2 linked regions of the Homo sapiens genome follow. The protein of the gene in region 2 purifies or fractionates together with the protein of the main gene of each other region. This does not show direct contact. Each region holds a gene or a part of one and is shown on either strand. Other genes may lie near its edges.

What was found. Proteins that work in one complex are often made in the same cells at the same time.
Region 1: the proteins of SHROOM3 (region 2) and AQP7 purify together in Homo sapiens (pull-down; one study listed by IntAct). This does not show direct contact.

Annotation. Positions count from the first base shown.
Region 1 is NC_000009.12:33,399,769-33,404,054, reverse strand, and holds the start of AQP7 (aquaporin-7), read left to right. Parts: upstream 1-1,486; 5' UTR 1,487-1,682; intron 1,683-1,906; exon of another isoform or gene 1,907-2,534; intron 2,535-2,767; 5' UTR 2,768-2,792; coding exon 2,793-2,818; intron 2,819-4,286. UniProt on the Homo sapiens protein: Aquaglyceroporins form homotetrameric transmembrane channels, with each monomer independently mediating glycerol and water transport across the plasma membrane along their osmotic gradient. Could also be permeable to urea.
Region 2 is NC_000004.12:76,753,229-76,756,728, reverse strand, and holds part of SHROOM3 (protein Shroom3), read right to left. Parts: intron 2,419-3,500; coding exon 1,537-2,418; intron 1,207-1,536; exon of another isoform or gene 281-1,206; coding exon 1-280. UniProt on the Homo sapiens protein: Controls cell shape changes in the neuroepithelium during neural tube closure. Induces apical constriction in epithelial cells by promoting the apical accumulation of F-actin and myosin II, and probably by bundling stress fibers.

The DNA.
Region 1 (4,286 bases), on a different chromosome or scaffold from region 2:
CTGAATCTTGAGCCCACGTAGAATCTGCAGAGGGAGGCCGGGCGCAGTGGCTCACACCTATAATCCCAGCACTTTGGGAGGCCGAGGCGGGTGCATTACCTGAGGTCAGGAGTTCGAGACCAGCCTGACCAACATGGTGACACCCCGTCTTTACTAAAAATCCAAAAAAACTAGCTGGGCTTGGTGGTGCATGCCTGTAATCCCAGCTACTTGGGAGGCTGAGGCAGGAGAATCACTTGAACTGGGAGGCAGAGATTGTGGTGAGACAAGACTGTGCCACTGCACTCCAGCCTGGGCGGAGCGGGACTCCGTCTCAAAAAAAAAAGAATCTGCAGAGGGAAGTTAGTGCCTTACAGAGGGCTTCTGACTAGGAAGCCCCGGGACTGTGGCCGACCCCTTCCTCTCCCTGCCTCACCCCTGCAGAAAGATCTGCAGAAAAAGCTGGAAGGGGTGGGAGGGTGTGTGCAGGGGTGGGGACTGGGGCTATGCAGGTTCCAGACCTGGTCTTTGGCACCCTCTACAGGACAGTTCCATTCCCAGACCTGAGCTTTGGACAACTGAATCTTATGCCCCTTCCCACCCATGGAGCCTGGTGCCGGAAGTTCCCAGGACTTACCCACCGTCCACCACGCCACATAGCAAGCGTCCTCAGTGTCTGCAGACCAGAAACACCTCCCTTGTGTCTCAGCACTGGGCCACCTGCTGAAACCCCAAACTGCCTGCCCCATTGTTTGAGACCCAGTCAGGCCTTGGCTCCAAAAGTCCTCTGGGACTGCTGCTGGCCCCCAGGGTCTCTCCTGACTGCACCTCGGTCCCGGAGCTCCCACACCGCTGAGCCCCGAGCCCGATGTCCCGATCCAGCTCTGGGTCCTTTACGGGGGCCTTGCTGGCCTTTCCTAAGGGAGGTGTTTTCCCGAGGACAGGTGGACTGCTCCTCAGACTAGGGGCCCTCGGAGGGCCAGGCCTGGGCTTCTACCTCCTCTCGCAGGCTGGTGTTTCTCTGCAAATATGGCTCGTGTGTCCTCCTTCCTCTCAGACTGGGGGCCCCTGAGGACTGGGCCTGAGTTTCCCTTTCCCCCTTCACAATGGGGGTTCCCTGAGGACTGACCCAGGGCCTCCCCCGTCCCCTCCACCTGGCTGTTAATCTCCAACACTTCCACCTCCAGTCCTATTCTGCACAGCTCTCCCCAGCGCTGGGGGCTCAGAGGCCTCTTCAGCCTTCCCCAGGGCTGGGGCTCAGGGAGGGCTTCCTCAGGCGCTGGCCCCAGAGTCAGGCTGCACATTGGCTTGGAGGACAGGCCTTTCCTCTGGGACTGAGAGGCCCAGAGTGCCCACCCAGAGCTCCACCTCTGACCTCACAAAGGCCTGCTTCAGAACTCGGTCTCCACGGCACTGCTGGCCGGACGAGGGATGTTATTTTGGGCAGTGCATCTGGACTTGGTTCAAGTGGCACCAGCCAAACCCCTGCCTTACTGACCTCTCCCCTGGAGGAGCAGGAGCAGCGCTCGAGGCCGCCCTGGGAGAGCTGAGAGGCAGGCTCTGGACTGGGGACACAGGGATAGCTGAGCCCCAGCTGGGGGTGGAAGCTGAGCCAGGGACAGTCACGGAGGAACAAGATCAAGATGCGCTGTAACTGAGAAGCCCCCAAGGCGGAGGCTGAGAATCAGAGACATTTCAGCAGAGTGAGTGGGGCTCCAGGCAGGGTGGGGATGGGGCAGCCTCCTCAGCGCCCAGATCTGGAAGGGCCATTCCCTGGGTACCATACAGGGAGGAGGTGACTGAGGGATTGTTTGGGGAAGGAGCCCCGTCTGGGAGTGGAAGTCCCGGCTTTCTTGTTATGGTGCAGTCCTGTGTTGCTGTGTGACACAGGCACATACACCCTCTCTCTGGGCCTCAGTTTCCTTACCTGTAAGTTGGTTGTTGGGAGGACCAGCGGTAGAGCAGAGATGGCAGGGATGCACTGAGCTGGGCTGTCAGCAGACCATGGGGGTGGGACGAGGAGAGAGCTGAAGACCACCGGCAGTGGACCACAGCGGGAGGCGTGCAGGCAGGAGACGGGTCAGCTGCCGGCTTGCTGGAGTCATTCCTCCCACGCAGTCCCCTCCTGAGGGGCTGGAGCTGGGGCTGGAGGGTTTCGGCAGTCAGGGCTGGAGATAAGAGTCTGTGCTGGAGCTAGAGGGAACTGGGCTAGAGAATCAGGAGGACAGACAGGGTGAGGGGACTTCGGGCTACCTTCATGCTGTCAGTTAGAGATAAAGATAGGAGTACAAAGGGGAATTTTTGGGTGAGGTACACGGGTGAAATGAGTTTTCAGGGCCTCATCCTGTGTGTTCACCTTCTGTGTGTGTGTGTGTGCATGCGTGCATGTGTGTGTGTGTGCAGGTCCTGGACAGTCGCAGCTTAAGTTAGCAGCAAGAGGACTTGAGGTTAAAGGTATAGCACGCAAATATGAGGCTGGAGCCACTGAGTAGAGGCTGAGGGCATCTCCACAGTCCAAAGCCGGGCTGCAGACACGGAAGGTCAGCAGGAGCACTGGAGGGTCTGGCCTGGGGCTGGGGTCCTGGGGCCAGCATGGGTGGGGTGGGGCTCCAGGGCGTCGCCTCATTGGCTGAGCACCGCTCCTCCCTCCCTGTTCCTTGGCTGGGTTAAGGGAGTGGCACTAGCAGGAGCTGCCCCAGGGCTTCTCCCCTGGGGACCAAGGTCTGATGGAAGTGTGGGGCCAAGTTCTGTGTCCTCCAGCCCTAGTGACCTCTCTTTGGCTCCTCAGCATCTACAAATCTGAAAGACAAAACATGGTTCAAGCATCCGGGCACAGGCGGTAAGTACCCCACCCTCTTCTCACCCTCCAGCCCCCTGTCCTTCACCCAGCCCACTTCAGTGCCCTCCCTGTTCCATCCTCAGCCTCTCCCTTGGGGCAGCTGTCCCCACTCGACCTCCTCCTCCCCACCCACCCACTCGCCTCTGAGGTCCCAGAAGAAGAGCATCTTCCACCTGTTGCCTGGGCTGGGTCCTGGGGTGAGGGGAGGCTCAGAAATACTTGGATGAGGGTCAAGGCATGCAGGTGGCCTTCAACTCAACTGCACTCAGCACCTCTCACCCTCTCAGGCTCAGCTGTCTTTGGGGTGAACAAGAGCCAGTCCTTGCAATGGCCAAGGCCCAGCCTTGTTAGCTTTCTGGCCTCCCCACTCCAGCCCCCTGCTCTCCCTCCTCCAGCCACACTGAGTTTCTTTTCAGGTTTTTTTTTTTTTCCGAGATGGAATCCAGTTCTGTCGCCCAGGCTGGAGTGCAATGGCATGATCTTGGCTCACTGCAACCTCCTCCTCCCGGGTTCAAGCGATTCTCTTGCCTCAGCCTCCTGAGTAGCTGTGATTACAGGATTACAAGCACACACTACCACACCCAGCTAATTATTATTATTATTATTTTGGTATTTTTAGTAGAAATGGGGTTTCGCCATGTTCGCCAGGCTGTTCTTGAACTCCTGACCTCAGGTGATCCACCCGCCTTGGCCTCCCAAAAGGTTGGGATTACAGGTGTGAGCCACTGCACCTGGCCTCACACTGACTTTCTTTGCTTTCTTCAAACATGCTGAGAGTCCTCTGGTGACTAGTCTCCCTCCACCTGAGAGGCTTTCTGCAGCTAACATACAGCCCACTCTCGTCTCCTTCATGGCTTTGCTCCAAGGCCACCTTCTCAACAAGGATTACTCTGGCTGCCCTATTTGAAATCACACCCCATCTCCAGCCCCTGCACTCCCAATTCCCCTCTCCTTGCTCTGTTTTTTTCCGTAGGAGCTGGTACCTTCGCTTATACAAATGTACTTACTTATTACATTTCATTGCTGTCAGCTCCACGCAAGCAGGGATATTTGCCTGTTGTACACTTGGACGGAGAGAATGAATAGTGCCACTCTGTTGACATCATTGCCTCTAGCCTACATCGCTCTCCAGGGCTTTAGATCCTGTTTCTAGAGACCCACTGGTGTCTCACAGGCAACTCAGCTCCTAGATGGAAACAGCCTCCTCCGCCCCCTGCAAGTCCACTCCTCCTGTGCTCTTGGCTCAGTCAGGGGTCCCCTTCTCCTCAGTTGCTCAAGCCAGAAGTCAAGGTCATGTCCTTCATACTTCCCTCTCCCCCATGTCTCACATCCAGTCACCAATCTCCTAAAATATCTAGAATGTGCACAGCTTCCACCATTCTTTCTACCACCACCCTACTCCCCCATGGCCATGTCAGGCCACCACCCGCCCATTCTTCAAAACCCCCTTCAGGCCTCACCTCCCATG
Region 2 (3,500 bases):
TGAACTCTTCTGAGGATCAGGACTGACTTTCTTTTCTAAACCCTGAGTTCCACTGACTGGATCATGGCTGAGGCTTTGAGTCTGGATGGGTGCTGGCTGCCCACCAAGAGACCCAGCAAGTTGGGCGTGAACGCTCATGAAGGAGGGTGGTGTGGACTCAGCCTCTGAACCCTTGATAGAAGTTTGGAGTCTGGAAGCCAGTGTCTGACTACCTACCACATGGGCTGCACCAGGCATGTGCCTTTCCCTTGCAATTGTCACTTTAGAAAGTTTGTTGAAGCTGCCAGGGATATTTAAAAAAAAAAAAAAAAGAGAGAGAGAGAAAGAGAGAGTGATAAGAGAAGGGTGATGATAAGAGGGTGGAGAAAGACTGAGGGAGAAGCTTTCCACATCAGGGCTGTAGCTTTCCACATCTTCCACATGTTACTGACAGAGCTAATGTTAAAGAATATGGCTTCTGATTATAAGTGGGTCTCCTGATACTGAACCCCGAAACTAAAAACATTTACCTACCTAGTCACAGGTCATGCTAGACACACAAACATACATAGATATATACATAGGAGTAGGGTGAGATAGTCACATTTGAGATCAACCCCTTCTTTAGAAAACAACAGCACTCTAAAGGGGCTCCTGAGCCCAGCAGCTGGTCAGGAGGTTGTCATCTCCTGAGGAAGATGGACTAGGAATTCAGTTCTGGTGAATGTTGCTGTTAGATTCCAGAGATTTCTGAAAGGTCTAGGTTAACAGGGGTAGTGGTAGTAAGTCACTCTTGTGGTGTTTAAAGAAAGCCACTCAAAAGGTGCTGTCAGGCAATGTGTTTTTTTGGTGTTTTGAGAGATTACTTGTTCTAGGGACTATGTGTTGGGGAATGCTTCTTTCTCATTCTCCTAGCTTCCAAGAGGTTTTCCCTAAACATTACTGACCTTGAGCCCTACTCTTTATTCCTCCCTATGGACATGGAGTGATTTTGGAAAGAGAAGCTGAGCATTCACATCCCAGTCTCTCTTCTCTTTTGAGACTGAGGCTGCCTCAAGGCTGTATATATTAATATCTATGTGTATTTGTGTGTCTAACATGACCTTTGATGAGGTAGGTAAAGCTGTTTAACTTGGGGGTTCAGTATCAAGAGACCCACTTACAATCTGAAGCCATATTCTTTAATGTTAGCTCTGTCAGTAATAAAAGTGATGTTTTTGTCTTCTATATGCCCTCCTCTTTTGTCTTATTTCCTAACTGATTCAGAACTCATCCAGGGAGGAGGGATTTACTTGGACCGCCTAAGCCTATCCTGTCCCCAGAAGTGAAATGTGCCCCTTGGGTCCCAGCTTTCATTTCTGCCACCCTGACTCCTCAGTACCCAATGACACTGGTCCAACTACCTCCTGAGGCAAACAGATCAACAGTGTCCTGAGCTGAGCTGTATAGAAACATCTCCATGCCAGGGTTCTTCTGTGGCCAGCAGAAGGACCTGGGCCACCTGGGGCATGACACTCTCCTGTTAGTGGGGGAAAGCTGCCCAGTCTGCTCACTCACCTGGGGCGTGGCCCCTCGGGATCCTCACTGTCCAGCTGCGCCTCACATACAGTGTGGGGAGGAGGTGGAGGGAAGTCATCCATGCTATACACCGGGGTTTCCTGACTCGGTGGAGGAGGTGGGGGTGGGGGAAGAGGTTCAAATGTGGGGCTGGACGTGGCCTTGGGGTGCGGATCCCTCACAAACACTTCGTCTTCATAATCCTCATGAGGTGGCGGGGAGTCCCGCAGGACAGACTCAGATATTCGGAGGGAGATCCTCCCTGGAGTGCTCGGGGCCCCAAGAGGTGTGTCTGGGTCAGAAGTGCTGCATAAACTTGGAAGACTCTGCTGTTTTTGATAGTGCTTCAGGTTTGCAAAATCAGGGGCTGAGGATTCCTCAGGAAGGCTGTCCTCTCTGGCTGCGTGGGCCCACTTTGCTCGAGAAGGAGGTGGCCACTGAGGCAGCGAGACCCTCTTCCTCGTTCCCTCTTCTACCCCATGCTCTGGGCCATCGCCCTCACAGCCTCTTGGACCGGGAGGCTGGGTCAGGGTGTGACCATTGCTTCTGTGCATCATGGCAGGGGTGTAGGGCGGGAGAGGCTGTCGCCCTGTCTGACCGTCCTGTGAGCAGTAGCCAGAGGGAATGGCTGAAGGCAGAGGGGTGCCAATTGGGGTCAGGGGTGCAGCCCTGGTGTCTGTGACCAGCCCTTGCGTTCCTGCCAGTGGTGGCCTGGGGCAGGGTGTCCTACTGGCTTGCCTCTGATGGTCCAGGGTTCCAGGACATTCACTAGGAACGGAGGAATCACCAATGGCTTTGCAGCCTGAACCACCCCAACGAGGGGTGAGATGGTGGAAGAGCGGCAGCATCTCTTCTTGGCCTCTTTCTGAACAACTGAGTGACCTGGAACGGCACACAGACAGGAGGGTTACAGCTCTGAAGAAAGGGGCAAACATGCAGCCCAATGCTCCTTACATAGATGAGAAAAGCATTTAAGAGGAAGGAGGACCTCTTTTCCTTCCCCCAGAAACTGCACACTGTCTTCCCTGGCTGCTCACAGGAAGACCCAAGTTAAACCAGTACTAGGCAGGCATAAATTCCTACAGGAAAATGTCACATGGAATGACTGGGTTCACAAGGCATTTTCTTTTATTAACCCTCTCACCGCCCCCACATCCTGTACACACCATGCAACATAAGGCAGCTTTTGAGGACAGGCTTCAGGCTATAAAAACAAACAGTACATTTCTTCAGCCCCTTTTAGGACTACTTCAGGAAATAGCTCCCAGCTCTGGGGAAAAATAATGCTGCCTTCTTCTCTCCCAGTGCGATCCCCACGGGGGAGGTCTGTTTTGAAAGCATTTGCATGGGCTGCTGAATTTGAAGGTTTTATTTACAACTTTTGCTTACTCTCCTAGTGTTTTCATTTCATCTGATGAAAAATAAAAAGGAGGGGGAGAGTCTCACCTAAGGAGCTAATAAGCAGTTACCTCTGGAGAAAGAGGCTGGCAATAATAAGCAAATATAGTACATGGTGATTTAAACAACTGTACGCTAGACTCCGAGGAAAAACCCAACAATTCGCAAAACTTTTGTTATTGTGTTCTAAAGGAGAAAAATCCACAAAACAAAACAGAAAAAAGAGTCTGTGGCACTACCTGCTATGCAAGAGTTAATGTGAGGATAAAAAGCTCTCCAGCAAACCCACCGTGATTTGTACATTCCCTGTCTGCAGTTCCCTGACTGGCTATGTGAGTGGATCTGGAGTGCAGATGGCACATTTCATCTCACAGATCTGACTCCTCTGAGGGAGTGGTGACTCAGTCCCACATCAGAGCAATAACACAGGGCTTGCCACAAGATCATCCAAGTGCCAGGCAAACAGAATGCAGCATGTGGTGGAAGAAGATGGCAAAGAACCAAATTAGCTCTTCTCATGCCTTTATTTTTCCTTTATTATACATAGATGCAGATGATGGAATAAA